Linked DNA regions of Homo sapiens: region 1 is linked to region 2. Evidence: fine-mapped QTL for protein levels in blood plasma. A gene starts in region 2. The other region holds a variant in brackets. All regions are shown on one strand. Distances are from middle to middle.

Region 1 (15,906 bases), 23 kb before region 2:
AGAGGTAGCTGAGTCAAGGGTAGGCCCAGGTACTGGTACTTAGGGTCTTCTAGGTTATGGGGGCAGGAGGGAGATGAGGCAGGCATGAGGGATGAGACTGCCAGCCAAAGGATGAAGCAGGCGGGGGAGGGATGGGCAGTGGGGGTGGAGGTGGTAGAACTGTTGTCCCTATCCCTCCTCCGCTAGGCCCTCTGTACTCTCCACCACCCCATTATCTAACCTAATCCTTGACTTCCCTTTCTTCTCACTTCGGACTGCTCACTTGCCTTGTTCAGCCCTGAATCATCAGGTGAAGGGAGCGAGAATTGCGGGGGTTGGAGTTAGGTAGAGGGATTTAAGGTGCTTTCTCCCAGAATTGGGGGTGAAAACGGGTGGATTGGACGGTGGGGAGAACGAGAAGTCAGTTTCCTAGAATCCTCTCCAATAGCTACCCAGGATTCTCTAGAGGAAAACAATAATGGCCAGTTACCCACAATTGGGGCGGGGGCAGGGGAAGGTGACGGAAACGGCTAGTTACCCAGAATTCTCTGGGGGAACCAGAAAAATCGGTTATCTAGAATTCTCCCACGGCAGCGGTGAGGAGGGGGATAGGGCAAGGGTCAGATGTGTTCCTGGGATGCTTACGGGGAATGGGTCATTACCAAGATTTCTCCATGGCGGATATTTTGGAGCGCGTGGAATTAGAACGAGTAGGGGGAGCGCAAGCGCTGTCAGCTCCGCGGGAAATTCCAGTTTCCCCAGTTCTCCCCCACGCCTAGGGCTCAACCTAACCACTACGGCGCCAAGGACCGGGGTCCGAGGCGCTTCTTCCAATCAAGAAGGGCTCGGGGCATATTTTAGCCAATCAGAAGGGCTCCGGGCGCATCTAAGCCAATCAGAAGGAGCCAGGTACGGCGACCCCAGGAGAGAGCGTGTGACGCACGCGCCGGAAAAAGAGGTTACGGGGCGCCGGTGGGACAAACGCAGCCAGACGCCGGACTTGTTGGGTGGCGTTAGAAAGTAACTCTGTTTTTAGTCTTCTTGAACAAAATTACGTCTAGGTTTGAAAACCAAACTTTTATGCTTTCTATAACTTTAGGAACTCTAAAATAAGGGACACACAAGGCAAAGCACTAGGAGTCGCTGTTGGGTATTCCCAGCGGGGCTTAGTCTACCTCCTCTTCCTGCGGTGCCCTAGTGAGCCACTCCGCCACCTCTGACCCTGTTGCCCCCAAAACTCGCTGGCATTTCCTATTATTTCCAGATATGGGAGAGAAAAAAAAGGAAGCGGGAGCCGGACTCCTGACACAGTCCAAGTGGCTGCATCTTCTACAGGCATCCATCTGAAACTCCCATCCGTGATTGTTCCCTCCCCAGAGACCCCGGTAACATTCCCGGGTAACAAGATGCCCCTGGTTATCAAATTCCCCTAGCTCTTGAGGCTGGCTGGACGTTATCCCTCAGAGGGGGATGAGCATGGCAAATTGGGACTTGTTATTCTGAAGGATTCGTGGGTCCTGTGAACTCTAATTACTTTGAAATGGGTCTAGGTTGTGAGATGTCTCAGAGCACTTTAGCTCAGCTGTTATTACTGTTTCTAAAGGCCACATAAAGGGACTCTGATGGGAGACATTCCTCATGGAGGATTCAATTCTATAACATTTCTCTCAATAAAGGCTGGTAAATAGACCTTCATTAAAGGAACCAAGAATTTAAATTTCTAGGACTCAGAGGGGTGGGGTCCTATACCCAGTCAGAGATCCTACCTAGAGCCTAGACCAAGAGAAAAACACAGATGGTCTCTCAAACTGATTTGATCTGACTTCGCAGGTCATTAGATATAGAATCTCCGAAAAAGGTGGATGCTGAGAGACATAGACAGTTCCTACACTTTAAGAAATCTCCATCTTGAGGTCTCAAATTGAGAAAGACTTAACAGACCCATGAGAGTTACAGATCCCTAATAACCTGGGCTAAATAATCCATGTCTGCCGGGCGCAGTGGCTCACGCCTGTAATCCCAGCACTTTGGGAGGCCGAGGTGGGCGGATCACCTGAGGTCGGGAGTTCGAGACCAACCTGACCAATATGGAGAAACCCCGTCTCCACTAAAAATACAAAATTAGCCGGGCCTGGTGACGGGAGCCTGTAATCCCAGCTACTTGGGAGGCTGAGGCAGGAGAATCATTTGAACCTGGGAGGCGGAGGTTGCAGTGAGCCGAGATGGCACCATTGCACTCCAGCCTGGTCAGTAAGAGCGAAACTCCGTCTCAAAAAAAAGAAAAAAAAAAAGAAAAGAAAAAAGGATACTGTGAGGAGACACAAGAGCATCCATGACATAGATTATTTAGCTCAGCTGTAATTACTGTTTCTAATACAGTAATATTAGATGGTGATCTGCCTGCCTCGGCCTCCCAAAGTTCTGGGATTACAGGTGTGAGCCACCGCGCCCAGCCTTTTTTTTTTTTTTTTTTTGAGACAGGATCTCACTCTGTTGCCCATGCTTAAGCGCATTGGCCCTCTCACTCACTGTAGCCTCAACCTCCTGGGCTCAAGCGATCCTCCCACTTCAGCCTCCCAACTAGCTGTAACTACAGGCACTGGCCACCAAACCCAGATAATTTTTTTTTTCCTGTAGAGGTGGGGTTTTGCCACGTTACCCAGGCTGGTCTTGAACTCTTAAGCTCAAGCGATCCTCCTGCCTCGGCCCCCCAAAGTTCTGGGATTACAGGCATGAGCCACCATACCTGGCGTACAGTATCCAGTGTAATGCAGTGATTAAAAATTCAGGATCCAGACCGGGATGGTGGCTTGTGCCTGTAGTCCCAGGGGTGGAGGTTGCAGTGAACGGAAATGGTGCCACTGCATTCCAGCCTGGGTGACAGAGTGAGACCCTGTCTCAACAAAACCCCCCAAAAACCAAGAACAAAAAAGAATGCAGGATCTGATGCTAGATTGTCTGCATTAGAACTCTAGCCACTTAAGCTGGGTGTGGTGGCTCATGCCTGTAATCCCAGCACTTTTGGAGGCCGCAGGCGGGTGGATCACCTGAGATTGGGAGTTCAAGACCAGCCTGACCAACATGGAGAAACCCTGTTTCTACTAAAAATACAAAATTAGCCACCGGGCATGGTGGTGCATGCCTGTAATCCCAGCTACTTGGGAGGCTGAGGCAGGAGAATCACTTGAACCCGGGAGGCAGAGGTTACGGTGAGATGAGATGGCACCATTGCACTCCAGCCTGGGCAACAAGAGCGAAACTCCATCTCAAAAAAAAAAAAAAAAAAAAAGGAATTCTAGCCACTTAGAAGCTCTGTGATCTTGGGCAAATTGCTTATCTTTGCACCTCAGCCTCCTCCTCTGTAATATAGGGTAATAGTATCTACCTTAAAGGGTTGTTGTGAAAATTAAATAGTTTAGTACATGTAAAGTGCTTAGACAAAGTATTTGGCATTAAGCGAGAGTTGGATATATTAGCCATCATTATTAACCACCTGGGGGAACTTCAACTGATTTGGAGTCTAGGCATACAACTGGAAAGACCTGCCTAGGAGTGTCTTGTGAATGCGATTTGCATAACGGTTTAGGCCCAGCTGACGTCAAGGGCTCCTTATAGCTCCAGGTCAGTTGTAGCCCTGGATGTAGTTCCTGCCACGCAACAGTCCCACAATCTCCCCACCAACCCTTCTTCCTACCCAACTCCTGCAGCACCAGGAAGTGAAACAAAGAGGCAGAGCCCTGTGCCTCCAACTCACCCTTGTCCCTCTCATCCCATCCCCCAGGCTCTACTTCCTCCTCCTTTTCATCTTTCTTTCATCTCTTATCTTTTAGGGCTCCCAGAATGGGGACCAGAGATGGGAAGAACATAGGAGACGTTGTACACAAGTAAGGTGAACTCCCTATCCTGCCCCCTCCCCTTTCCTTATTCCATTGGTGTCCACCTTATTAGGGAGAGAGGCAAAACAGTTCTCACCCAAACTCAGATAATTCTCTGATGCTGGAAATGTTTAATCTAAAGGGTAGATTTCCATTTTTTTTTTTTTTTTTTTGAGACAGAGTCTTGCTCTGTCACCCAGGCTGGAGTGCAGTGGCGCCATCTCGGCTCACTGCAACCTCTGCCTCCTGGCTTCAAGCGATTCTCTTGCCTCAGCCTCCCGAGTAGCTGGGACTATAGGCGCCCACCACCGTGCTGGCTCATTTTTGTATTTTTAGTAGAGACAGGATTTCACCATGATGGCCAGGCTGGTCTCGAACTCCTGACCTCATGATCCGCCTGCCTCGGCCTCCCAAAGTACTGGGATTACAGGCGTGAGCCACTGTACCCGGCCCTTGGTAGATTTAACTTAGAATCGTAATATTTTTTTTTCTTCTCTTAGCTCATACCTACAGAATCATAATATTTGAACCAGAAGTGTCATTGGGCAGTTTTGAATAGCTCTAAGGGAAGGGAGACCTCCATTCAGGACAAGTTTCTCAGAAGAAAAGGGTCAACCTCTTGGGGGAGGCTTTGGGAGCCAGCTGTGTGGTCACCGATGGCCTCATTCTGACGTCTTCGAAATTGTTCTGGGACCCTCCACTGGGGTCGGGGCAGTCCCGGCTTTGGACCACCTTCCACTCCCACGCCCAACCTCACACTCTTAGCTGTTTCACTCGATGTTGCATCATGGAGGGTGATGAAATCGGTGTCAGTGGATTTTACCCATGGATGCAACAAGCTGAAGGACCAGCCAGAGTCATTGACAGTGCACCTTCGACTACCCAGAACTCCTGGGCTTCCTAGCCATGGGGTCCAAAGCTGGGACTGCCCCGACCCCAGTGGAGGGTCCCAGAACAATTTGGATGACGTCAGAATGAGGCCATGGGACTAGGTGCTGGAATGTCTAAGTTGAACTTCCAGGCCTTATTTGCACTAGTCCTGAAAAAAACATCATCCAACTCTTATAGAGCCTATGAAATCTTGGGCCACTAGGGTTGAGGAGTCAGGTGGTTCTTAGTCAATAACCCTCTTCCCACAAGAGCCTTTCTAACCTCCACTGTGAGGCCTGAAATGGGGAGCAATAAGACCTCATACTGGCTTCCCAGTTCTCCAAGTTCCTTCATGCGCATTCTCTCCCATGAAACCAGGACCATCCAGTTGAAATAATGTTGTTTCCAACTGAGAAAAAGAAGCCCGTTTATTCCTAATAGGGGGCATCAGGTAGGAATCAAACTTCATTGCAAACAGCTCACCATCCTATTGGGAGATGAATGGATGTTTCTCTGTTTTGCTTTTTCCTCAAGCAGGAGGAAGTGAGGAAATTAGGTTTGGGGTGGGGTAGGGGTATAGCTTTGAGAGGCAAAAAGATCAGGGAAAGATCAAACAGGAAGGAACTTGAGACCAGATTAATTTAAATATTTGTTCTCCCTTACCCCTCCCACCCCATCCCCGCTGTGCCCCCCATCCCCGCCCCTTCTATAGCTATTTCGATTCCTGGAGAGCATTACACATGTGTCCCATCCCAGGCCTCTAGCCACAGCAACCACACTACTCATTTCCCCTGGAACTGAGGCTGCATACCTGGGCTCCCCACAGAGGGGGATGATGCAGGGAGGGGAATCCCACCTGCTGTGAGTCACCTGCTGGTATAAAGGGCGGGCCTTACAATGCAGGGACCTTAAAAGACTCAGAGACAAAGGGAGAAAAACAACAGGAAGCAGCTTACAAACTCGGTGAACAACTGAGGGAACCAAACCAGAGACGCGCTGAACAGAGAGAATCAGGCTCAAAGCAAGTGGAAGTGGGCAGAGATTCCACCAGGACTGGTGCAAGGCGCAGAGCCAGCCAGATTTGAGAAGAAGGCAAAAAGATGCTGGGGAGCAGAGCTGTAATGCTGCTGTTGCTGCTGCCCTGGACAGCTCAGGGCAGAGCTGTGCCTGGGGGCAGCAGCCCTGCCTGGACTCAGTGCCAGCAGCTTTCACAGAAGCTCTGCACACTGGCCTGGAGTGCACATCCACTAGTGGGACACATGGTGAGTGGCAGCCCCTGGAGCCTAACAGGAGTCCAGGCTCTCCAAGGCTGTGGCAGAAGACCGTGACCTTGAGTGGAAGCTGGAGGGTTGAAGGCCATTAGGGAGTAAGAGAGGACAAGAGAGTAGGGTTCCTGGGAGAGTCATGGGCCTGAGGGTCCAGGTTGGCTTCAGAAGTACTATCTTACTTCTTCATTCTTTCCACCTCTTCCTTCATTCCAGGATCTAAGAGAAGAGGGAGATGAAGAGACTACAAATGATGTTCCCCATATCCAGTGTGGAGATGGCTGTGACCCCCAAGGACTCAGGGACAACAGTCAGGTACCACTGGGATGTGGCTGGGCAATGAAGGAGAGGGGACTGAGAACATGGCTGGGTACCATGGTAAACCAGAAGTTGTGTCTGAAAATAGTAAGAAACTGGGTGAGTCTTCAGTGAATGGAGTAGGAAGAGGGTGTCCTCTTTCATTGCTTTCTTTTCTCCCTAGTTCTGCTTGCAAAGGATCCACCAGGGTCTGATTTTTTATGAGAAGCTGCTAGGATCGGATATTTTCACAGGGGAGCCTTCTCTGCTCCCTGATAGCCCTGTGGGCCAGCTTCATGCCTCCCTACTGGGCCTCAGCCAACTCCTGCAGGTATGAAGTAGGGGCGTGGAGGATGGGGGCTTGCAGGTGTCAGAGACAGAGGGTTGGGGGTTAAGGGTTTAGAGTCTTCTCTGACTGTGTCCTATGTCCTTTCAGCCTGAGGGTCACCACTGGGAGACTCAGCAGATTCCAAGCCTCAGTCCCAGCCAGCCATGGCAGCGTCTCCTTCTCCGCTTCAAAATCCTTCGCAGCCTCCAGGCCTTTGTGGCTGTAGCCGCCCGGGTCTTTGCCCATGGAGCAGCAACCCTGAGTCCCTAAAGGCAGCAGCTCAAGGATGGCACTCAGATCTCCATGGCCCAGCAAGGCCAAGATAAATCTACCACCCCAGGCACCTGTGAGCCAACAGGTTAATTAGTCCATTAATTTTAGTGGGACCTGCATATGTTGAAAATTACCAATACTGACTGACATGTGATGCTGACCTATGATAAGGTTGAGTATTTATTAGATGGGAAGGGAAATTTGGGGATTATTTATCCTCCTGGGGACAGTTTGGGGAGGATTATTTATTGTATTTATATTGAATTATGTACTTTTTTCAATAAAGTCTTATTTTTGTGGCTATATGAGTCTAATTTCTAGGCTCAATTGGGAAAGAGAAATCGATGGAAAAATAAGGCCAAGAGACTACAATATGCATCCCTTTCTTCTATTCTGAAGGGCTATGGTGGAGAATGATATTTTCTCATGACCCCCTGGTGTATAGAATAACTGGGATCTCTTTAGTATTAATTCCTATATGGCTGAGCAAGCAGAATGGGATTACCAGATTAGGAAGTGGGATCATACCTAAGGGTCACTTGCTCCCTGATCCAGTGTCTCCTTCCCTGCTTTCTTGGCCAAGAGTATATCTGATCAAAGACGGGAGTCCTGATCATTGCAGGATCAAAAGTCAGAGTTCAGCTTTGAGCAGGAAGGGCATTCCAGGGAAATGAAGATAAATATCCTAGAATAATGGGACTTTCCTCTCAAAGGACAATTGGAATCCCTTTTTTTTTTTTTTTTTTTTTTTTTTTTTGAGATGGAGTCTCATTCTGTTGCCCAGGCTGGAGTGCAGTGGCGTGATCTCTGCTCACTGCAACCTCCGCCTCCCACGTTGAAGCGATTCTCCTGCCTCAGCCTCCCAAGCAGCTGGGACTACAGGCACGCACCACCACGCCTGGCTAATTTTTGTATTTTTAGTAGAGATGGGGTTTCACCATGTTGGTCAGGCTGGTCTTGAACTCCTGACCTCAGGTGATCCACCTGCCTCGGCCTCCCAAAGTGCTGGGATTACAGGCATGAGCCACCATGCCCGGCCTTGGAGTCCCTTTGGAAGTTTGGTAACTCAAGGGTAGCTGAAATTCTTTGAAAAAAAGAAAAGATGAGGGGAAGTGGCTAGTGATTATTTCCTTTCCTTTTTTTTCCATAGTCACAGCATCAAAAAGTGTGGGTTTGAAGTCAGAAAAATCCAGACAGGTTTGTGTTTTGGCTTTGCCAACAATCAGCTGAGTGACAATGAGACAGTTATATAACTACTCATCCCTCCCCCCACAATGCATATATAGCTCCCAGCACCCCTAGAAGAGTCTAACGGACAGGAGGGGCTACTCCAAACAGGAAGGGAAGAAGAAATATGACAAGAGGAATGTAGAGGGGTGGATGGAAGAGAGGCCACAATTTTCTGACTTCATTCCTGTGCAGCTTGTTGGTGTCCCTAAGAACATTAGCCTTTGTGAGCAGGGAAATAAAGAGGATCAGAGATGAGACATTTCCAGATCAGCACAAAGTTTATTAGCCATTTCTGCTCAGAAGAGCCCCTTTCTGAACAGGACTGTTCCTCTGACATAACAGACAAGAAACAGCCACCTGTGCAGGGCCTTTCCTTTATATCTCAAGCTACATCAGGAGAACATCTTGGAGCAATGTCAGTTGCCCCCTGGGGTTCCCTGGGAATAGCTAAGGTGTGAGATTGTCCAGAGTCCTATGACAGACCTTCAAGGTTTTAAGTTCCACAGACTTGGACTTTGTCCAGGTCCACAACCAACGAATAGAAACCTTCCTTTCAGGTAAACAACATATTGTACAAAAAAGGGAGGATGATAACATAATAGAGAAAGAGCTAAGACCCATTGCTTCTCCTCTGTAAAAACACCAAACTTTATCCAATACTATAAAAAAGAAATTCCTGCTGGGAACAGTGGCTCACGCCTGTAATCCCAGCACTCTGGGAGGCCGAGGTGGACAGATCACTTGAGGTCAGGAGTTCGAGACCAGCCTGACCAACATGGAGAAACCCCGTCTCTACTAAAAATACAAAATTAGCTGGGCATGGTGGTGCAGATCTGTAATCCCAGCTACTGGGGAGGCTGAGGCAGGAGAGTCACTTGAACCCGGAAGGCGGAGGTTGCAGTGAGCCGAGATCACACCATTGCACTCCAGCCTGGACAACAAGAGAGAAACTCCATCTCAAAAAAAAAAAAAAAAAAATCCTGGCCAAGCACAGTGGCTCATGCCTATAATCCCAGCACTTTGGGAGGCCAAGGCGTGAGGATCACTTGAGCCCAGTTCAAGACCAGCCTGGGCAATATAGCAAGACCCTGTCTTTAAAAAAAAAAAATAGGGCATGGTGGCGCATGCCATGGTGCTAGCTACCCAGGAGGCTGAGGTAGGAGGATTGCTTGAACCCAGGAGGTTGAGGCTGCAGTGAGCTGTGATTGCACCATTGCACTCTAGCCTGGGCAACAGAGTGAGACCCTGTTTAAAAAAAAAAAAATCCCCAGCAATCCTACCATCCCCAGCCTCCAGGAGTGATCTGTCTCCTAAGCATTGAGAAAGTGGAGACTAGGTAGCATAAACTAGTGTGCAAAGCTTCACACTCACATTAGATTGGCAGGATCATTTTATGGGGGAGGAACAGGTACAGCCAGCTTAGGGGCAGAGTAGGGGAGGAGACTGGTAAGAAAAAGAGGTCTACTTCCTATCCATCCCTTTCTTCAGGGTAGAGTTTCACATGGTAGGCTAAGGCAGAAAGCTCTCAACCCCTGCAGGAAAAGAAGAAATTCAGGGCTTGAGCCAGGAGTAAAGGAAAGAAGAAAGCAAGTTATCCTAGACATGAAGGAATGGAAGAAAGAAATGGAGTCCTATCCTGTGTCTGTGCTCCCCACCAAGGGCCAATGCCAGTATGCACCAGTTTAGCCTAACCAACTATTAAAATGTTGAAATCCTTCCATACTGGAAAGAAGCCACTGCCCTGAGCCCTCCAAGTACCTGTCAACTGCCCTGGCCTGCCCCCAGGACCCCTATACCTCCCAGCACAGCAGGCAGCCTCCAGGATCCTATTTAGACCTATGGCTCAGCATCTGTTCTGATTCATTGTTGTCCCCTCTGTACCCATGTTATGCTTTCACCTCTCACCCCAATGGAGTCACACAGGCCTGAGTTTGAACAGTTAACACAGCTTGGAAGGGACACATGCCTGATTCCCATCCTTGGAGAACAATATCATGCTATGAGGAGTAGGAAGGGCAAGAGATATGAAAAGAACAGAGGAAATGTGGTTCCTAGAAGTCAGAAGGCATCAAGGGTCCATCAGTGTAGAAGTGGCTGGGGCGGGAGACGTAAACCTCATCCACGGTGTTCTGGCC[A/G]GCCAACAGTGGGTCACCATTCGGCATGATTTCTTCAATCTTTACACAGTTTCTGAAGACTAGGTAATCCAGAGAGAAAAGTGAGGCCCCGATCTTAGTTAGGAGTTCCCAACCCAGCAGGGAAAGGGAGGGAGGATGGCAGGAAAGGCCTGGGAAGAGCCTGAGTGGGAACTTGTGGGATGAAAGAGCAGGGAGGTGGGGGAAGGCATGTGTAATTCCTAAAAAAAGGAATCACAGAATGGACCTCTCTCCAATGAGGAGCTTGGAGTTCAGCTTTTTCTGTAATGGGAGAGGGAGAAGAGGTAGGAAAGGGAATGTGTGCCATCTTCCATAGCTCCATCTCATCACTTACTTTCCATTGGCTCAGTGTTCAAATGTCTCAGATCACAGGGCAAATCTGGCTCTGGCACTGGCTGTGATACAGGTCCTTGGTCTGGCTCTGGCACTGTTTGTGATACCATGCATAGTGTGGGCTCTATCACAGGCTCCAGAGTGGACTCCAGCACAGACTCTAGCTCTGGCCCCAGATCCAGCCCTGCCTTCAGCAGTGGCTCTAAGTCCAGGCTGAGCTCTGGCTCTGGCACCAGCCCTAGTTCCAGCTCTAATGACTCCAGCTCTGGCTCTGGCTTAAGCTCCAGCGGTTGTTGCAGTTCATCCACCTGTCTGGATACCCAAAGACAGACAAAGGGGCAGGGCTCAGTGGTTCAAATGAAATCAGGAATGGTAGAATAAGCAGAAGCTAGTCTAAGAAGGCAGTAGGGCGGAGGGCTAAAGAGCATGGGTTTGGAATCAGGCCTCCTGGAGTTTGAATCCTGGCTGGGGGACCTTAGGCAAGTGGCCTAACTTTTCTGAGCCTCAGATTTATCATCTATAAATGAGAACAATACCTAGTAATTCTTGAGAGGCAGTAGGGTGGTTAAAATCAGGGCTACGGAATCTAACAGACCTGTATCATTAGCCACGTACCTTAGGTACAAAACTTGACTACTCTAAATCCAGTTCCTTAGCTGAAAACAGTAACAGTGTTTACTTCACAGGACTATTTTGTAGATTCAATAAAATGAGAAAATAAATGCAAACCATTTAGCCTAGTGCCTGGCGCATAATAAACTCTCAGGCCAGGCATGGTGGCTCACACCTGTAATCCAAGCACTTTGGGAGGCTGAGGCGGGCAGATCACTTGAGGCCAGGAGCTCATGACCAGCCTGGCCAACATGGTGAAACCCTGTTTCTACTAAAAATACAAAAGTTAGGCCGGGTGCAGAGGCTCACGCCTGTAATCCCAGCACTTTGGGAGGCCAAGGTGGGCGGATCATGAGGTCAGGAGTTTGAGACCAGCCTGGCCAATATGGTAAAACCCTGTCTCTACTAAAAATACAAAAATTAGCCAGGTGTGGTGGTTGTGCGCGCTTGTAGTCCCAGCTACTCAGGAGGCTGAGGCAGGAGAATTGCTTGAGCCTGGGAGGCAGAGGTTGCAGTGAGCTGAGATCGTGCCACTGCACTCCAGCCTGGGCAACAGGGCGAGACTCTGTCTCAAAAAAAAAACAAAAATTAACCAGGCATGGGTGGCGCTCGCCTGTAATCCCAGCTACTCAGTAGGCTGAGGCAGGAGAATTGCTTGAGCCTGGGAGGCAGAGGTTGCAGTGAGCTGAAATTGCACCACTGCACTCCAGCCCGGGCAATGAGAGTGAGACTGTCTCAAAAAAAAAAAAAAAAAAAAAAAAAATTCTATCCCCAGCCAAGTGCCATGGCTCATTCCTACAATCCCGGCAATTTGGGAGGCCAAGGCAGGAGACTGCTTGAGGCCAGGAGTTCAAGACCAGCCTGGGCAACACAGTGATACCCCATCCCTACAAAAAATTTAAAAAATTAGCTGAGTGTGATTGAGTGTGATGGCGTGTGCCTGTAGTCTCAGCTACTTGGGAGGCTGAGGCAGGAGCATTGCTTCAACCCCTAGGTCAAGGCTGCAGTGAGTCATGATTATACCACTGCACTCCAGCCTGGATAACAGAGACCCTGTCTCAAAAAAAAAAAAAAAAAAAAAAAAAAAAAATATATATATATGCGGGGTGTGGTGGCTCACGCCTGTAATCCCTGCATTTTGGGAGGCCAAGGTGGGTGGATTGCTTGAGTCCAGGAGTTCAAGAACAGCCTGGGCAACATGGTAAGACCCCATCTCTACAAAAAATACAAAAAAAATTAGCTGAGTTTGGTGATGCATGCCTGTATTGCTTGAGCTCAGGAGGTCGAGGCTGCAGTGAGCCAGGATCACACCACTGCACTCCAGCCTGGGCGACAGAACAAAACCCTGTCTGGAAAAAAAAAAAGCTCCATGCTTGCATCAAGTAGGTACCCATTAACACCAGTGATTATGATCATTATTATCCAGAAACCCCTGTGGAGACAACCTAAGGATGGCAGCAGAAAAATATGAGATAGGAGAGACTAGAACCAGAAAAAACTAGAGTGGGCTAGGAGGGAGGGAAGGCTGGGGAGACTGGAATAGGGCAGCTTAGGAGAAGGCAGAAAGGAGAGGCTGTGGGAATGGCAGGGCAGAGCAGCTGACCATCATCCTGGTGCTCCACCCAGGAGAAGGTAATGCCCCCTTTTGACGATTCACTGAAGCAGAGCCAAAAAGGATTAGGGAGGATGAATGAAGAGTTCATATCTCACCTATTAGAGACCACAATGAGCCTGTGTTTCAGGTATTTCCTCCGTTCCTGGAGATTAACTGTGAGGAACATATACAAGAAGCAGAGAAGATCAGTGGGCCAGACATATAGCCTGAGGTTCCCCTAGTGCAGATGGTCCTGGCAGTCTCATCCCCATAGTAACCAGCAGTATCCCATGGACGAATCCCTTAATTCCTCTAGATATCAGTTTTCCCATGCTTTAAAGGAAGGAGTGGGATCTATGGATGTCTGGTAGATCTCTGCAATCTAGCAATGAAGTATGTCAACGATTCCCACCTTTCTCCTGGTAGTAGCACCCAAAAGCTTCATCCCGGGGGATTCGGGGATAGAGGAAGCGCAGTGGGTTTTCAGGTATATTCTCCTCAGTGAGCAACTGGTAATGGCGGATGATTTCAGTCAGCGGGAGTGACTGCAGCACCTCCTTCGTGTACGGTTGCACAGAGTAGATGAGCACCTTGTCTGGAGAGTGAATGCAGGAACAGGCGGGCTTGAGGGAAGAGGCCGGGCCTTGGAGCTCTCTGCTCTGGCTGCCCAGTCCCAAACCAGCTGAGGGATTCAGTTCAGAGCCAGGGAAGCCAAGGGCAGGCAGAGGGGCAAGAGGGGAGCCAGGCAGAAAGGAGAGGCTGTGGGAATGGCAGGGCAGAGCAGCTGACCATCATCCTGGTGCTCCACCCAGGAGCAGGTAATGCCCCCTTCTGACGATTCACTGAAGCGCAGTAGAAAGGTGCCAGACATGGTCTTCTTCAGCAGCCGGCGCTCCTGGCTCCGACTCACAAAGCCCATGATGCGTCTGGAGCACAGAGAGCAGCTGTGAGACACCGCCCAACACCCTGCCCCACCAGGCCCCTGCCTCCCTGCTCCCCTTGTATGGAGAAACAGCCCAGGTTTGGAATCCAGGCTTTGGACCAAGCCCTGCCACTTAGCTTTTTTTTATCTTTTACAAGTCACTTCACTTTGCTGACAATAGCCACCTTCCGAGGGTTTGAAGTACGAAGATTCAGTGAGATCACACAGATGAACAGCACTTTTTTTTTTTTCTGGGAGACAGGGTGTCATTCTGTCACCCAGGCTGGAGAATAGTGGCATGATCACAGCTCACTGCCACCTCGACCTCCCGGGCTCAAGCAATCTTCCCACCTCTCAGCCTCCAGAGTAGCTGGGACCACAGGTGCACACCACCATGCCTGGCTAACTTTTGTATTTTTCGTAGAGACGGGGTTTCACCACGTGGCCCAGGGTAGTTTTGAACTCCTGGGCTCAAGTGATCTGTACTCCTCAGCCTCCCAAAATGCTAGGATTACAGGCATGAGCAACCACGCCTGGCCACAAATAGCACTTTTTTTTGGTTTTGTTTTGAGACAGAGTCTTGCTCTGTCACCCAGGCTGGAGTGCAATGGCACGATCTTGGCTCACTGTAACCTTCTCTCCTGGGTTCAAGCGATTCTCCTGCCTCAGCCTCCTGAGTAGCTGGGATTACAGGCGCCCACCACCACACCCGGCTAATTTTTGTATTTTTAATAGAGATGGGGTTTCGCCATGTTGGCCAGGCTGGTCTCAAACTCCTGACCTCAGGTGATCCACCCACCTCGGCCTCCCAAAATGCTGGGATTACAGGCGTGAGCCATCGTGCCTGGTCATGAATAGCACTTTTAAAAGCCAAATGCTACACAAGTTGGTAGGCAGTGTGGTGGAAAGAGCATGGGCTTGGAGTCACATAGGCCTGGATTTGAATATCAACTGTGTCCCTTGGGTAAGTTCTTTAACTTCTCTGAAACTCAGTTTCCTCACATGAAATGAAGCTGGCAAAACCCACCACTCAGCATGGTTGTAAGGATGAGATGAGAGAATTAATGAAGAGCACCCATCAAGCTCTGGAATGTAGGAGATGCTTCACAAACACTGTTTATGGCTATTATTGGTTGTTTTTTTTTTTTTTTTTTTGAGACGGAGTCTTGCTCGTCACCCAGGCTGGAGGGCAGTGACGCAATCTCGGCTCACTGCAAGCTCCATCTCCCAGGTTCACGCCATTTTCCTGCCTCAGCCTCCTGAGTAGCTGGGACTACAGGTGTCTGCCACCACGCCCGGCTAATTTTTTGTATTTTTAGTAGAGACGGGGTTTCACCGTGTTAGCCAGGATGGTCTCGATCTCCTGACCTCATGATCCGCCCGCCTCGGCCTCCCAAAGTGCTGGGATTACAGGTGTGAGCCACCACACCCGGCCTTATTATTGTTAACAAATGTGAGGAGACGTGGCCTGCACCTGTCTTTGCTCTCTCTCCCTGCTTGCCACGTGAGGGTGCAGAGACTCCACTCTCAAGCCCGGAAAGCACAAGCCCATGAGGGAAGGGTGACCAAGGCCTTACCCATCATTCCAGAGATCCTTCAGGTGGTCATGTACCAACTCCAGAATTTTGTCCAGCCATGTCCAGAATGGTAACTTGCCAGGAGGGCTCTCTCGCTGGAGGAGGAATGGAAAGGTAGCAAAAGCTGAGGAGTTGCCTCTGGTGTAGGGAAGGAGGGACGTGGGAAGGCCAGTATTTGGAATGTGGGCTAGATCCAGCAGCTCCACAGGATTCAGGGAGTTACCTTAGTGAAGTCAGCCCAGGACAATAATGGATCCTCAGTCCTACAGTTCTGCCCTGTGGGACAGATAGCCACAGACAGATGATGAGGGAAGCCAGGGGTCCTGGGATAGATAGGACAGAGGGACAGAAAAGACTAAGGCTGGGGAAAGGCTGAGAGAAAAGGAAATCTGTACCGAACAGCTTGTTTCTCAGCATGCTCAGCTGGTCTGAGTTGAGGCCTCGGCCAACATAGGAGGAGAACTGCCAACTGAGAGCAGGGCCCAGCAAGCTCCAGGGGGCCTTGGGGGGGTTGGAGAAGAACTGCTGGTTCTGCAGGGGTGGGAGCAGTGTAGGCTGGCTCAGAAGCAACCTATCACACCAAGCTTCCACACCCCTC
Region 2 (15,048 bases):
TAGTTTCATGATTGTTCATTATTACTAATTTAAAATGTTTAAATTATACAAGTAATAAAAATACAGAAAACATTAAAATATATGTTGATCCTACTGCTAATCTTGGTTCTTTCCCCTCCTCTCCAGAAGTAACCACTGCTATCAGTTTGGTGCATATTCTTCCAGGGAGTGCTACCAGTTGAGTATCTGCTATTCCAAGCATTTTGGATTTCAGATTTGTCCAGATTTTGGAATATCTGCATTACTTACCAGTCGAGCATCCCTAATCCAAAACTCTGAAATCTGAAATGGTCCAAAATCTAACTTTTTGAGCACCCACATGACACTCAAAGGAAATGCTCACTGGAGCATTTTGGAGCCAAATTTTTCAGATTAGGAATGCCTAATCTGTATTTTTTTTTTTTTTTTTTTTTTTTTTTTAAGATGGACTCTCACTCTTTTGCCTGGGCCGGAGTGAAGTGGCATGATCTTGGCTCATTGCAACCACCATCCCCCTGGTTCAAGTGATTCTTCTGCCTCAGCCTCCTGAGTAGCTGGGATTACAGGCACCCACCACCACGCCCAGCTAATTTTTGTATATTTTTTAGTAGAGATGGGGTTTTGCCATGTTGGCCAGGCTGGTCTCAAACTCCTGACCTCAGGTGATCCACCTACTTCGGACTCCCAAAGTACTAGGATTACAGGCATGAGCCACTGTGGTCCCAACCTGTATTTTTTTTTTCTTCAGATGGAGTCTCGATCTGTTGCCCAGGCTGGAGTGCAGTGGTGTGATTTTGGCTCACTGCAAGCTCCGCCTCCCGGGCTCATGCCATTCTCCTGCCTCAGCCTCCCGAGTAGCTGGGACTATAGGCTCCCGCCACCATGCCCGGCTGATTTTTTTTTTTGTATTTTTAGTAGAGATGGGGTTTCACCGTGTTAGCCAGGATGGTCTCGATCTCCTGAACTCGTGATCTGCCTACCTCGGCCTTCCAAAGTGCTGGGATTACAGGCGTGAGCCGCTGTGCCCAGCCGGCCCCAACCTGTATTTTAATAGCTTCAATAAGTGGGCCTTTGTGCTTTAATGGGAATTTTCTTTCTTTTTTTTTTTTTTTTTTTGAGACAGGGTCTCACTTGGTCACCCAGGCTGGAGTGCAGTGGCATGATCTTGGCTCACTGCAGCTTTGACCTCTCAGGTTCAAGCCATTCTCTGCCTCAGCCCCTCAAGGAGCTGGGACTACAGGAGTGTGCCATCATGCCAGCTAATTTTTTGTAGAGATGGGATTTTGCCATGTTGCCCAGGCAGATCTCAAACTCCTGAGCTCAAGTAATCCGCCTGCCTCAGCCTTCCAAAATGCCGGGATTAACAGGCATGAGCCACCATAACCAGCCTAATGGTAATTTTCAAATACACACTAGAGTAGAGTGAATAGTACAAGGATCACCATCCAGCTTTAACAAACATTACTATTTCCACAATCTTATTTCATCTATCTCCCTAATTCATTTATTTTGCATTTATGTGTGTGTTTGTTATTTATATTTGATTGTGCTAAAGCATTTAAAGATCAGTGTTGATGTTAAGTATTTATTACAGCATGATCCCTGCTGGCTCTGAAGCTTTTTTTTTTCTTTTTTTTTTTTTCTTTTTTTGAGATGGAGTCTTGCTCTGTCACCCAGGCTGGAGTGCAGTGACACGATCTCGGCTCACTGCAAACTCTGCCTCCCGAGTTGAAGGGATTCTCCTGCCTCAGCCTCCCGACTAGCTGGGATTACAGGCGCCCACTACCATGCCCAGCTAATTTTTGTATTTTTAGTAGAGATGGGGTTTCACCATATTGTCCAGGCTGGTCTGGAACTTCTGACCTCAGGTGATCTGCCCACCTTGGCCTCCCAAAGTGCTGGGATTACAGGGGTGAACCACCATGCCCGGCCACCTGAAGCTTTTTTAGGAGCCAAATCTTTTTGGTGGTCAGGTAAGTACACCATATAAACTGCCCTCCATATAGGAAGGAGGAGCTCCATTCTAGAAGACATCTAAATGCTGTGCAATGGGTGGCTCAATCCCAAGAATATGACACGTTTATGACCTGTGAATCTTGAATATGATTATAGGTTATCAACTTTGTGAGATCCTGAAACTTCACTTAAAATTGTTGCCTGTAATCCCAGCTACTCAAGAGGCTGAGGCAGGAGAATGGCTTGTACCCAGGAGGCAGGGGTTGCAGTAAGCAGAGATCACATCACTACACTCCAGCCTGGGTGACAAAGCAAGACTCTGTCTCAAAAGAACAACAAATTGGTTTTTGCCTGTCACCAAGCAGGCTGTCCCATGCATCTTTCTCCCCACTGTTCCCTGCTCACTGCCAGCTGGTGTCTATTTAGGAAACTGAAACTTATGCTTGTTGCAGCCTGAGCCTAACAGAACAGAATTCATGCATATTTGTGGTCTAAAAAGGTCACATGATTTTATTACAAAATAAAGAGAAATGCTTGGGGTGGGAGAGTCTTCTACTAACATGAATAACATCAGCTGCCTTTCTACCTCCAGCAGGAACAAGGGAAGGGAGGGATTGGGCAGGGGCTATTTTCATTTTAACTCTTTTAGTAGTGCTTGATTTTTAAAACTATGTATCTGTATTGCTTTTATGATACCAAAAAAAAGTTAAAAAAATGATCAGGTGGCCAGGCATGATGGCTCATGCCTGTAATCCCAGCACTTTGTGAGGCCCACAAGACGAGAGGATGGCTTGAGCCCAGGAGTTTGAGACCAAGCTTGAGCAACATAGTGAGATTCCATCTCCAAAAAAAAATTAATGATGAGGTCCCAATTCTTGAGGATTTAAGTGTCTGATATTAAAGGAGCAAGTCAGCAAAGATTCAAATATGAAAACAAAACAAAAAACCTGGTCTCCCCAAATGGATTGCAAACACTGAGGTTAAGGGCTGAAACAATTTTTTCTCATTATCTCTCATTCTTAGGCACATATTTTGCACTCAAGAAGCTTTTCTGAAATGAACTGAATTTTGTGTGTGACCTTAGGCAATCGTTTCATCTTTCAGTAGCTTATACTTTTTAACAAAACAAGGATAATAGATTTATCTATCTTTGTTTTTAGATTTATCTATCTTTGAACATCGTTTTTTGGTGAAGATAAAAAATAATGCAGAGCAGAGGGAAAAACGTCAGATACCGAACCAACATAACAATGCCAGATTCCGGGTCTCGGAAGCTGCAGGGCAGTTTTGGGAGAGGGGCATTAGGGTTAGGGAGATAGGCTGGACAGAAGAAGATCGAGGACCGAGCAGGCGACAGCTCCTATTTCAATCTGGGGACCGAAGCTACCCTCTCCAGGGGGTAACCCCTGGGGCCAGTCGCCCTTCCCTCGGAGGAACTCTCACTCTCACCCCCACCCCTACCCCAGCACACCCTCTCAGGGCCCGTACCTGATTAGGGTTGCAGTCCCCGCGCCCTCCAATGGCTCTGGTCGCGACTTCCCGTCCCTAGTATGAGCTCGGGTACTAGAACCTCGCGCCCCGCCTACAACTTCGGCTAACCCCCCTCGGACCCGCCCCCTTGTAGTTGGCAGCGGAAGTCCGGAGCGGCCCCCATTCCCAGCCGCCACCCCGACACTGGCTGCCATTCAGTCAAGCCCTTCCCAGACTGCGAGCTCACTGGCGCCGCCGCAACTCCGCCCCTCCGCAGGGCGGGACAAGCTGAGCCGAAACCACACCTGCAGCTTCAGCGATTGGTGGAGAAGTTCAAGTAGGCACTTTCTACGAGGGGAGGAGTCCAATTAGTGGACTAGCCCAAGACTGAAACAGCTGATTTTCGAGAACCCGCGCGTGAGCCCCGGAACCGAAACTAGCTTGAGGAGCCTGGAGACGCCAAGGGCTCCATGGGAAGGGGTGGGACCGGAATTTCGACGCCTTGGGATAGGAAGAGGAGGGCTGAGGTAATGAAAACAATTTTTTTTTATTTTTATTTTTTGAGACATGGTCTCGCTCTGTCACCCAGGCTGGAATGCAGCGGCGCGATCTCGGCTCGCTGCAGCCTCGACCTCCCAGGCTCAGGTGATTCTCCCGCCTCAGCCTCCCAGGTAGTTGGGACTACAAGCGTGCATAACTCCGCCAGGATAATTTTTTGTATTTATTGTAGAGACGGGGTTTCGCCATGTTGCCCAGGCTGATCTTGAACTCCTGACCTCAGGTGATCATCCCGCCTCAGCCTCTCACAGTGCTGGGATTACAGGCGTGAGCCACCGCACCTGGCTAATAGCTATTTATTGAAAGTACTGTGATAAGCATTTTAGATTCATTGTATCATTTTAAATTTACAGGGCAACTCATTGAGGTTAAAATCATTCTATCTCCTTTAGAAACTTCAAAACTGATCTTAGTTCAAGAAAGAAGTTACTATTCAGTGATCACCGAGGCTCTAACAAGTGGAGCCTAGATTCGAAACCAAACCCTGTGACTTCAACACCCAAACATTTACGTTCTTACGTTTTACTGTACAGCCTTCCTCCTGGATAAATCAGATTAAAATTTTGAAGACATGTATATAGCTTGTCAGGGTAGTACAGTTATTAATTCTGTGGTTACCACATTCTTTTATATCTCAAGACTCCCAGCCCCAGGATCTAAGTCATAGCTCTTGATTATGGCCCACCCCCAGTAGGGAGCTGAACTTACTACTTCTGATATGAAAGAAGCCAGAGTAGTTGTTTCTTCCAAGTCACTCACATCTGAGATGGCCCTCAAACCCTCCTTGGTGGTCTCCGGCTGAGAGATGTTTGCGTCTTTCTGATCTTGGTAATACTGGATCAACTGCTGAACCCCAGACCTTAATGCAGGTTTAAGTGCAGCACTGATCGCTAGACCCATAGGCCCCCCTGACATCCCAGCCATGGTCATCAGAAGGTCATATCCCAGATCTATGGCCCCATCTCGGCCTCGTTCCCTGGCCTTGCCCAGGCAGTTTTGAGTAGCATAATACAAAGCTGTGCCCAGGTTGTAGAAGGTTCCCACTCCTGGCAGCAGCTGGACTACATTGTGCACAGCTTGCTCCTTCTCATTCTCACAGTCCTCTGTCGGGAGGGAGCGCCCGACCCTTCCTGTGCTTTGCTGCTCCCTGGCTAACAGCTGCAGAGCAGAGGCCAGGGCTTCCACTGACACGTTCCTCTCTGTGCTTCTGCCTTTCTGGAGCCCTCGAAGATGCTGGATGAGGACCTGTGTAGCATTCACACCACCCTGGCGGTAGAGCTGTAGCTGTAGAGCCCAAACATCAGCCTGACAACCAGCTTCCTCCAGGGCATTCCTTAGAGCCAGGCTTACCAAGAACTTGGGTAGAGGGGCCATGTGGCTGAAACCAGGCAGTGACTTTGGGTGCAGAAATTGGCAGGACAAGGGGTCTGAGGAGGGTGTCTGGGATTCCAAGGACAAGGGAAAGTGCATCAAGACATTTGTCTGCTTTCCATATGAAGTGGCATCCACAGGGTGCAGCAGGAGGTAGCAAAGTAGCAGCTCAACTGGTATCATGATGAGTCTGAGGCCACGCATGTCTGGAGCAGAGTACCCTAGAAAGGGGAGAAATCCGAAACATACAAACCATTTCCCTAAGGGCGATGGTGAGCCCAAGACTCAGTTAGGGGGACACCTCATACATCACCTGCTTCCAAGCTTTTGTACTTTCTTTTTAGAGACAGGGTCTTGCTCTGTTGCCCAGACTAGAGTGCAGTGATGGGATCACAAATCACTGCTGCCTTGAATTCCTGGGCTCGAGGGATCCTCCTGCCTCAGCCTCCCAAGCAGCTGGGACTACAGGTGCGTGACACCATGCCCAGCTAATTTTTAAATTTTTTGTAGAGACGTGGTTTTGCCATCTGGCCCAGCCTAGTTCTGAACTTTGGGCTCAAGTGATCCTTCCACCTCCGCCTCCCAAAGTGATAGGCTTCCAGATGTGAGCCACCGCGCCTGGCCCCAAGCTTCTGTTCTTTTTAGGTAAAGGCCTAGGAAATAGGAAATGCACCCCAGTTGCTCCCACTTGGTCTCCCCCATTTACAGGTCACCAGGGACTTCTGTTTTATTTCCACCCATATATAGGGACCCCAAATTACCACACAGTCCAGTCATTGAGAAGTGAGACTGCCTTGGTAGGTTTGATCGCTTCCTGATCCTGTTCTGCCTAGTTCTGTGTCCCATGAGGAAAGGAGATATTTGCTTTCCCCTATGATCAGTGAAGGATGTAATCTCTGCAAATATTTGCCCATTTATACTGGCTGCTCAAACCTTGTGCCCCTTGTCACACACTCAACCTCTATGCCTACAGTCCTGTTCTTTGGCATTTCCTGTATGTCCCTGCCACATTCCCACTCTAAGCTCATGATAGGAGCCAGGGAAATTCAGAATTAGGAAAGATGAGATGTTTGTGATACTCTCATTTCTCTTCATTTTAAAAATTAAATTAGCGGCTGAGCATGGTGGCTCACGCCTGTAATCCCAGCACTTTGGGAGGCCAAGGCGGGCGGATCACAAGGTCAGGAGTTCGAGACCAGCCTGGCCAATATGGTGAAACCCTGTCTCTACTAAAAAAAAAAAAATATATATATATATATATATATATATACACCCAGGCGTGGTGGTGGGCGTCTGTAGTCCCAGCTACTCAGGAGGCTGAGGCAGGAGAATTGCTTGAACCCGGGAGGTGGAGGTTGCAGTAAGCCAAGATCGCACTACTGCACTCCAGCCTGGGTGACAGAGTGAGACTCCGTCTTAAAAAAAAAAAAGGAGGGGAGCTGACACCTACTAAGTGGAGAGGGGCAAGGCTAACACTGGTCACATATGTGTTTAAGGGAAGAGGTGAAATAAAGAGCATTCATCTGTCCTAAGTGGTCTCCAACATTTCTAACTACTTACTGTGTGCCATCCTTGAATACAGTCCTGGGAAAGGAGACTCATTACTTATGTGATATTGAATAGCTGAAATGAGCCGGGATCAATTCCTGGATCATTTTCCTCACAAAGCACTTCAGAATAGCTGTGGAACATTTGATAGATTATATTGTCACTGTCCATGGACAATTTAAATGATCTTGAGAGCTTCTTCAACTTTTTGCCTAATTCTTCAATATGCTCCCAAGACTCATACCTGCAGTTCTTGGTGATGTGGACACCCAAAACTTTGAACTGTGACACCAAGCATCATGGGAGATGGTTTCTCAGCAAACTCAATCACCATCTGAGCTACCTGGTAGGCCAGCTACCCCAGTGGGTATATTTGCCACCATCCATACATTTCCCAGGATGGGCAGCTGGGTGCTGGGTTTATTCACACTTCCCTAAGGGACTACTAGATTCGTCACAATGATGTTGGTATTGCCTTCCTCCCCATTGAACTTTTTGACTCTCACGGATGAGGGTTTCAGTGGTATCCTTTCCTCGCATCTGAAACTGCAGAACATGGGCCTCAGTTGGGCAGCCCACCTCCTCCAAGGGCACCCTCAGAGCTAAGTTGGACAGGTACTCAGGCAGAGGGGCTAGGGAGGGGGCTGTGTGTAAGAGATCTTGGCAGATCCTGGGATCTGGGAGAGGAATCTGGCTCTCCATGTTCTCCAAATAATGGAGAGCATGTTTGATGGATGCCCAGTCTCTGTTAAAGATGGCTGGAGGGTCAGAGTCTCATTCTGAGCATTTCTTGGAAAGGCAGACACCAGGGACAGCAGGACACAGCAAAGCAGCAGCACAGCTTGGACCATGGGGGGACAGCAGAGCAGCCCTGCTGGAAGGAAGCAGTGCTCAGGTTGGGAAGTGGAGAAAGGCTCAGGACAAAGAGACACCAAGACTGGCCAGAGCTAGAAAGTGTCTTAGCTCTTGGAAACTTCGGTTGCCCTGAGCACACCTCATCTTCACTCTTAAAGGATGTGGGTGATCCTCCTATTTTGAGGAGAAACAAGTCAGAGGAAAAAAACAGTCCAAACATCTCATTTGCTTTGGTATCTTCATGACCTGAATTACTATTATTGTTGTTGTTGCTGTTTTTAATCTGCCCTTTCCCAGAATCACAAGGAAACCAGAAAGTTGATGGCTTCCAAAACAGTGAAGGACAAAACATTTGCAAATATTTATGCATCTCTTCCCAGCCCAGACTTTGTCCTTCTCACCTTTGACCCATACTGACAAACTGACCTTTCCCCTTTTAGGCCCTGCAGTCCTGTCCCATATCTTTTTTTTTTTTTCTTTTTCTTTTTCTTTTCCTTTTTTTTTCTGGAGACACAGTCTCACTCTGTTGCCCAGGGTAGAGTGCAGTGGCACGATCACAGCTCACTGCAACCTCCACATCCCGGGTTCAAGCGATTCTTGTGTCTCAGTCTCCCTAGTAGTTGGGATTACAGGCACGCACCACCATGCCTGGCAAATTTTTGTTTTGTTTTGTTTTCTGGAGACAGTCTCACTCTGTTGCTCAGGCTGGAATGCAATGGCGTGATCTTGGCTCACTGCAACCTCCACTTCCCAGGTTCAAGAGATTCTCTTGCCTCAGCCTCCCGAGTAGCTGGGACTACAGGTGTGCGCCACCACGCCTAGCTAATGTTTTTGTATTTTTAGTAGAGATGGAGTTTCACCATGTCAGTCAGGCTGGTCTCAAACTCCTGACCTCGAATGATCTGCCTGCCTCGGCCTCCCAAAGTGTTGGGATTACAGGCGTGAGCCACGGCACCCAGTGACATATCTTTTCTATCCTAAGGTTTTACCCTAAACCTATATTTGAGCTGAGGAAAAGGTCCTCCGTATCTTCTTGAGGGGAGAAAGGGTAAGGCAGAATAGCTGGTGATCTCTGGGACCCCTAAACCATTTTTCTTTTCTTTTTTTTTCTGAGACGGAGTTTCGCTCTTGTTGACCAGGCTGGAGTGCAATGGCGCGATCTCAGCTCACTGCAACCTCCGCCTCCCAGGTTCAAGTGATTCTCCTGCCTCAGCCTCCCAAGTAGCTGGGATTACAGGCGTGTGCCACCATTCCCGGCTAATTTTGTATTTTTGGTAGAGACGGGGTTTCTTCATGTTGGCCAGGCTGATCTTGAACCCCTGACCTAAGGTGATCTGCCCACCTTGGCCTCCCAAAGTGCTGGGATTACAGGCTTGAGCCAGCCACAGCGCCTGGTCACCATTTTTCTTATTAAAAGAATATATTGGTTGGGAAGCCAAGGCAGGCAGATGGCTTGAGCCCAGAAGTTTGAGACCAGCCTAGGCAACATGGCGAAAGCCCCGTCTCTACAAAAATTATAAAAATTAGCCAGGAGTGGTGGCATGCACCTGTAGTCCCAGCTACTGGGGAGGCTGAGGTGGGAGGATCACCTGAACCTGGGGAGGTCAAGGCTGCAGTGAGCCATGATTACACCACTGCACCATCCAGACTGGGTGACAGAGCGAGACTTTGTCTGAAAAAGAGAATATACTGGATGGGAGTCCAGGGAAACTGGACAGATTGACAAATAAGACAAAATCAGAGCAACTTTTTTTTTCTTTTTTAGAGTCCAGTCCAGGTATTGCTCTATCTCCCTGGCTGGAGTACAGTGGCCTGATCATGGCTCACCACAGCGTTTAACTCCTGGGTTCAAAAGATCCTCCTGCCTCAGCTTCTCAAGTAGCTGTGACTACTGGTGTGCACCACCATGCCTAGCTAAAATTTTTTTTTTTTTTTTTTGTAGAGATGAGGTTTCACTATGTTTCCCAGACTGGTCTTGAACTCTTGGTCTCAAGCAGTCCTCCCACCTCAGCCTCCCAAAGTGCTGTGATTAGAGGCATGAACCACTGCACCTGGTTTATTTTTCACTTTTCTAATTCCAATGCAAAACACAAATAAAACATGTCCATCAGCTGAGCAGTAACTTTCCAAATCTAACCAAAACTCCAGGAATTAGGCTTTATCTTGGGTTTAGGGGTAACATTAGTCCAAAAATTAGGGAAATAAGACATCTGATGCCTCCTAAAAATGGTACCAGTTCCTACATATCATTATGGCCTAAAGTTTCCTCTGATGTCACTCACCTCAGGCACATGGCCAAAGGGACTAGGCCAATGGCAGGGTCCAGGGTCCCTCCCTCTATTTTTTTCGGTTCTTTCAGTTCCCAGGAGTGGCCCCTGACAACTAAGAGCAAAGACAGAAGCAGAGGAGTAAGTCTCCAGGGACACAGTGCCAACTTAGAAACAGCAAGAACTAAGTGGAAAGGAGTCCAACACTGTCTGAAATTACTAGACCCCAAACCCCTGGGGAATCCCTAAGACAATATATATACATATACCTACATGGATAAAATATACGTACACACACATACACGTATACCAGGCTGGAGTGCAGTTGGTACAATCACAGCTCACTGCAGCCTTGAACTCCCAAGCTCCAGCAATCCTCCCACCTCGGACTCCTATATATCTGGGACTTCAGGCACGTACCACCACACCTGGCTAATTTTTAAAATTTTCTTGTAGAGAAGGGAACTCACTATGTTGGCCAGGCTGGTCTCGAGCTCCTGGGCTCAAGGGATCCTCCTGTCTAGGCCTCCCAGAGTGCTGAGCCACTGCACCCAGCCTCCTAGGACTCTATAGTTTCTGTGTAGCAACACTAGAAGGAGTGAAAGATTTAATCCTTGTCTCCTAAGATCTATCACAAAGCAGAAATATCCATTCTTACCAGTTTTTCCTCATTGTACTGGAAGTTCTAACCAGTGTAATGTGGAAAGAATAAAAAATAAATGGCATAAAACTAGAAAGGAAGATGTAGAACGATATTTATTTAAATACAACATAGCTCTGGCTGGCTCAGTCGGTAGAACATGAGACTCTTAAAAACAACATGGGGGCTGGGCGCAGTGACTCACGCGTGTAATCCTAGCATTTTGGGAGGCTGAGACGGGCAGATCACGAGGTCAGGAGTTCAAGACTAGCCATGGCCAGCATGGTGAAATCCCGTCTGTACTAAAAGTACAAAAAATTAGCCAGGCATGGTGGTGCGCACCTGTAATCCCAGCTACTCGGGAGGCTGAGGCAGGAGAATCACTTGAACCCGGGAGGCAGAGATTGCAGTGAGCCGAGATCTCGCCACTGCACTCCAGCCTGGCAACAGAGTGAGAGTCTATCTAAAAAAAAAAAAAAAAAAAAAAACCAGCAACAACAAAAAAACAAAAAAAAGACATGGGGCGGGGCTTGAGACCAGGAGTTCGAGACCAGCCTGGCCAACATGGTGAAACCCCATCTTTACAAAAAATAAAAAACACAGCCAGGGGTGGTGGTGTGCATCTGTAGCCCCAGCTACTCGGGAGGCCGAGGCAGGAGAATTGCTTGAACCCAAGAGGGGGAGGTTACAGTGAGCTATGATTCTGCCACTGCACTCTAACCTTGGTGACAGAGTGAGACCATGTCTCAAAAAGTAATAATAATAAAATTTAAAAAAGTAATACAAAATAAAAACAACATGGACTAGGCATGGTGGCTCACACACTTTGGGAGGCCAAAGTCCAGGAGTTCAAGACCAGCCTGGGCAGCATAGGGGAGACCCTGTTTCTGCAAAAAAAAAAAAAAAAAAAAAAAAAATTAGCCAGCTCAGCTGTCCAGCTGTGGTGGCACACGCCTGTAGTCTCAGTTTCTCAGGAGGATCACTTGTGCCCAGGAGGTTGAGGCTTCAGTAAGCTGTGATCGTACCACTGAACTCCAGTCTGGGTGACAGAGGGAGACCCTGTCTCAAATAAATAAATAAATAAATAGATAGATAGATAGATAAATAAAATAATAATTAAAAAATAAAAAATTAAAAGAAACAATGTGATTGTTTATGCATAAATCCTAAAGAATACAATTTTAAAAGGACCAATAAGTTAATTTAGCAAGGTGACAAGATAAAATATTAATATATAAATGAATTCTATTTCTGTAGTCTAAAAACATACATTGAATGTTAACTTAGGGCCGGGTGCGGTGGCTCACACCTGTAATCCTAGCACTTTGGGAGGCCAAGGTGGGTGGATCACGAGGTCAGGAGATCAAGACCATCCTGGCTAACACAGTGAAACCCTGTCTCTACTAAAAATACAAAAAATTGGCCAGGCGCGGTGGCTCACACCTGTAATCCCAGCACTTTGAGATGCTGAGTCGGGTGGATCACAAGGTCAAGAGTTCAAGACCACCCTGGCCAACATGGTGAAACCCCATCTCTACTAAAAATACAAAAATTAGCTGGGCGTGGTGGTGTGTGCCTGTAATCCCAGCTACTCAGGAGGCTAAGGCAGGAGAATCGCTTGAACCTGGGCTGCAGAGGTTGCAATGAGCCGAGATCGCGCCACTGCACTCCAGCCTGAGTGATAGAGTGAGACTCCATCTCAAAGAAAAGAAAGAAAAAAATTTAGCTGAGTGTGGTGGTGGGCGCCTGTAATCCCAGCTACTCGGGAGGCTGAGGCAGGAGAATCGCTTGAACCCGGGAGGCGGAGGTTGCAGTAAGCCAAGATCGCGCCACTGCACTTCAGCCTAGGCAACAGAGCAAGACTCTGTCTCAAAAAAAAAAAAAAGAAAATTAACTTAGAAAATTCCAGCTGGTTACCATGGCTCAAGCTTGTAACACCTGGACTTTGGGAGGCTGAGGTGGGACGATTGCTTGAGGGTAGCAATTTGAGACCAGCTTTGGCAACATAGTGAGACCCTGTTTCTACAGAAAAATAAAATGAAAAAAAAAATTCCAATTACAATAGTGTTTAAAATAAACAAGTAAAATTCCTAAAAGAAGAAACAAGACAAGGATGCTCACTCTTGCTACTTCTATTCAACATTGTACTGGAGGTTCCAGCCAGAGTAATTAAGCAAGACAATGAAATAAAATGTACCCGATTAGAAAGGATGAAGTAAAACAACCTATATTAGTGGGTAGCATGATGTTGCATATTAAAAAAACTCAAACTTACACACACATAGACACACACACACAAAATAAGTACTAATAAATGGGTTCAGCTAAGTTGCAGGATACACTATCAATACACGAAAATCGATGATATCTCTATATATGTGCAATGAATAATTTGAAAATGAAGTTAAGAAAATTGCATTTATAATAGCAGCTATAAGTGTAAAACTTGTACATTGAAAACTACATGGGTGGGGGGAGGGGGAGGGATAGCATTAGGAGATATAGCTAATGTTAAATGATGAGTTAATGGGTGCAGCACACCAAGATGACATATGTATACATATGTAAAAAACCTGCACGTTGTGCACATGTACCCTAAAACTTAAAGTATTAAAAAAAAAAAGTCAAAGAAAAAAAAGAGCTCTCATCATTTAGAGATTCATACTGAAATACTTATGGATGAAAATATATTATTTGCTTGAAAATGGTGGAGGTGAGAAAATGTGGAGTATATGACTATGAATTGATAATTCTTGGAATTAGGTGATGAGAAATAGGTGTTTAATAGACTATTTTCTCTACTTTTTTATATATTTGAAATTTTCCATAATAAAAAGGTTTTTTTTTAAAAGAAAAGAAAACTACAAAACATTACTAAAAGAGATTAAAGGAGACTAAAGAAGATTAAAGAATGAGTTAAACCCAAAACTATTATAAGGAAGGAAATAATAGAGATTAGAGAAGAGATAAATAAAACAGAGAATACCTTTAGGCACAAATACTTGTGAAAAAATTAAAAATAGGCCCGGCAAGGTGGCTCATGCCTGTAATCCCAGCACTTTGGGAGGCTAAGGTGGGTGGATCACGAGGTCAGGAGATCGAGACCATTCTGTTAACACTGTGAAACCTCATCTCTACTAAAAATACAAAAAATTAGCTGGGCTTGGTGGCACACGCCTATAGTCCCAGCTACTCGGGAGGCTGAGGCAGGAAATTGCTTGAACCCAGGAGGTGGAGGTTGCAGTGAGCCGAGATCGTACCACTGCACTCACTCCAGCCTGGGCGACAGAGCAAGACTCCGTCTCAAAAAAAAAAAAAAAAAAAAAAAAAATTGTCTGGGCGCAGTGGCTCACACCTATAATCCCAGCACTTTGGGAGGCCAAGGCAGGTGGATCATCTGAGGTCAGGAGTTCAAGACCAACCTGGCCAACATGGTGAAATCCCGTCTCTACTAAAAATATAAAAATTAGCTGTGGTGGTGCATACCTGTAATCCCAGCTACTTGGGAGGCTAAGGCAAGAGAATTGCTTGAACCTGGGAGGTGGAGGTTGCGGTGAGCCAAGATCATGCCACTGCACTCCAGCCTGGGCAACAGAGCTAGACTCTGTCTCTAAATAAATAAATAAATAAAACAAAAAAACAAAAATTAGCCAGGCATGGTGGCAGATGCCTGTAACCCCCGTTACTTGAGAGGCTGAGGCAGGAGAATCACTGGAACAGGGGAGGCAGAGGCTTCACACCACTGCACTCCAGCCTGAGTGACAGAGGGAGACTCTGTCTCAAAATAATAATAAATAAATAAATAAATAATAATACAGATAAGAGAAAAACAATTGAGAAAATCAGTGCAACCAAAAGTTGGTTCTTCAAATAGATGAACAAAATTGACAAACCTTTAGCTACACTAACAACAAAAAAAGATAAAAAGACTCAAATTATTAAAGTTAAAATGAAAGTGGGAACATTACATTTTACAAAAATTAAAAGAATTATAAGAGTAATTAAACAATTACATGCCAACAAATTGGATAATCTAGATGAAATGAACAAATTCCTAGAAACATATATCTTACCAAGACTAAATCATGAAGTAATAGAAAATTTGAATTAAAGATATTGCATCAATAATCAAAAATCTCCCCAAAATGAAAAGCCCTGGACCAGATGGCTTCACTGGTGAATTCTGCCAAACATTTGAAGGAGAATTAATGCTAATGCTTCTCAAACTTTGCCAAAAGATCAAAGAGAAGGAACATTTCCTAACTCATTCCAGGGGTGAGCATTACCCTGATACCAAAGGCAGACATACACTAGGAAAAAAGAAAACATACACCAATATCTCCTATGAATACTGATGCAAAAATCCTCAACAAAATGCCAGCAAGCCAAATTTAGCAATGTATT

Direction of the effects. Alleles are on the strand shown, and positions count from the first base shown. The strength of an association depends on the size of the effect and on how common the allele is.
As copies of A replace G in region 1, the plasma level of the protein whose gene starts at base 3,473 in region 2 goes up (moderate association).

What was found. PIP is the chance, under the fine-mapping model, that this variant and not a neighbour inherited with it causes the effect. The UK Biobank Pharma Proteomics Project read protein levels with antibody pairs (Olink). The fine-mapping took linkage between variants from a reference panel, not from the people measured, so its PIPs are less certain.
Region 1: its variant is fine-mapped to the plasma level of the STAT2 protein (UK Biobank, PIP above 0.99). The variant lies in the coding sequence of STAT2. If it changes the protein, the assay may bind it differently, which can mimic a change of level.

What each region holds. Positions count from the first base shown.
Region 1 is chr12:56,333,221-56,349,126 of GRCh38, forward strand. It overlaps IL23A (interleukin 23 subunit alpha), which reads left to right and starts at 5,664. Exons shown (of 4, transcript NM_016584.3): 1 at 5,664-5,986; 2 at 6,206-6,304; 3 at 6,471-6,617; 4 at 6,723-7,190. The coding sequence starts at 5,825. The coding sequence ends at 6,884. It overlaps STAT2 (signal transducer and activator of transcription 2), which reads right to left. Exons shown (of 24, transcript NM_005419.4): 17 at 15,704-15,839; 18 at 15,532-15,584; 19 at 15,309-15,403; 20 at 13,599-13,735; 21 at 13,222-13,404; 22 at 12,926-12,983; 23 at 10,605-10,915; 24 at 8,377-10,311. The coding sequence ends at 10,169. PAN2 (poly(A) specific ribonuclease subunit PAN2) reads right to left here and starts at 780. Exons shown (of 26, transcript NM_014871.6): 1 at 642-780. RefSeq lists enhancers at 616-785, 911-1,130, 4,977-6,176, 5,655-5,954, 6,442-6,611 and 2 more, cis regulatory regions at 685-716, 701 and silencers at 5,665-5,959, 14,174-14,223. The variant A/G (reference allele first, on the strand shown) is at 10,253.
Region 2 is chr12:56,356,635-56,371,682 of GRCh38, forward strand. STAT2 (signal transducer and activator of transcription 2) reads right to left here and starts at 3,473. Exons shown (of 24, transcript NM_005419.4): 1 at 3,424-3,473. APOF (apolipoprotein F) reads right to left here and starts at 6,223. Exons shown (of 2, transcript NM_001638.4): 1 at 6,096-6,223; 2 at 3,934-5,555. The coding sequence starts at 6,111. The coding sequence ends at 4,591. RefSeq lists enhancers at 2,340-2,539, 2,371-2,540, 3,616-3,795, 3,866-3,955.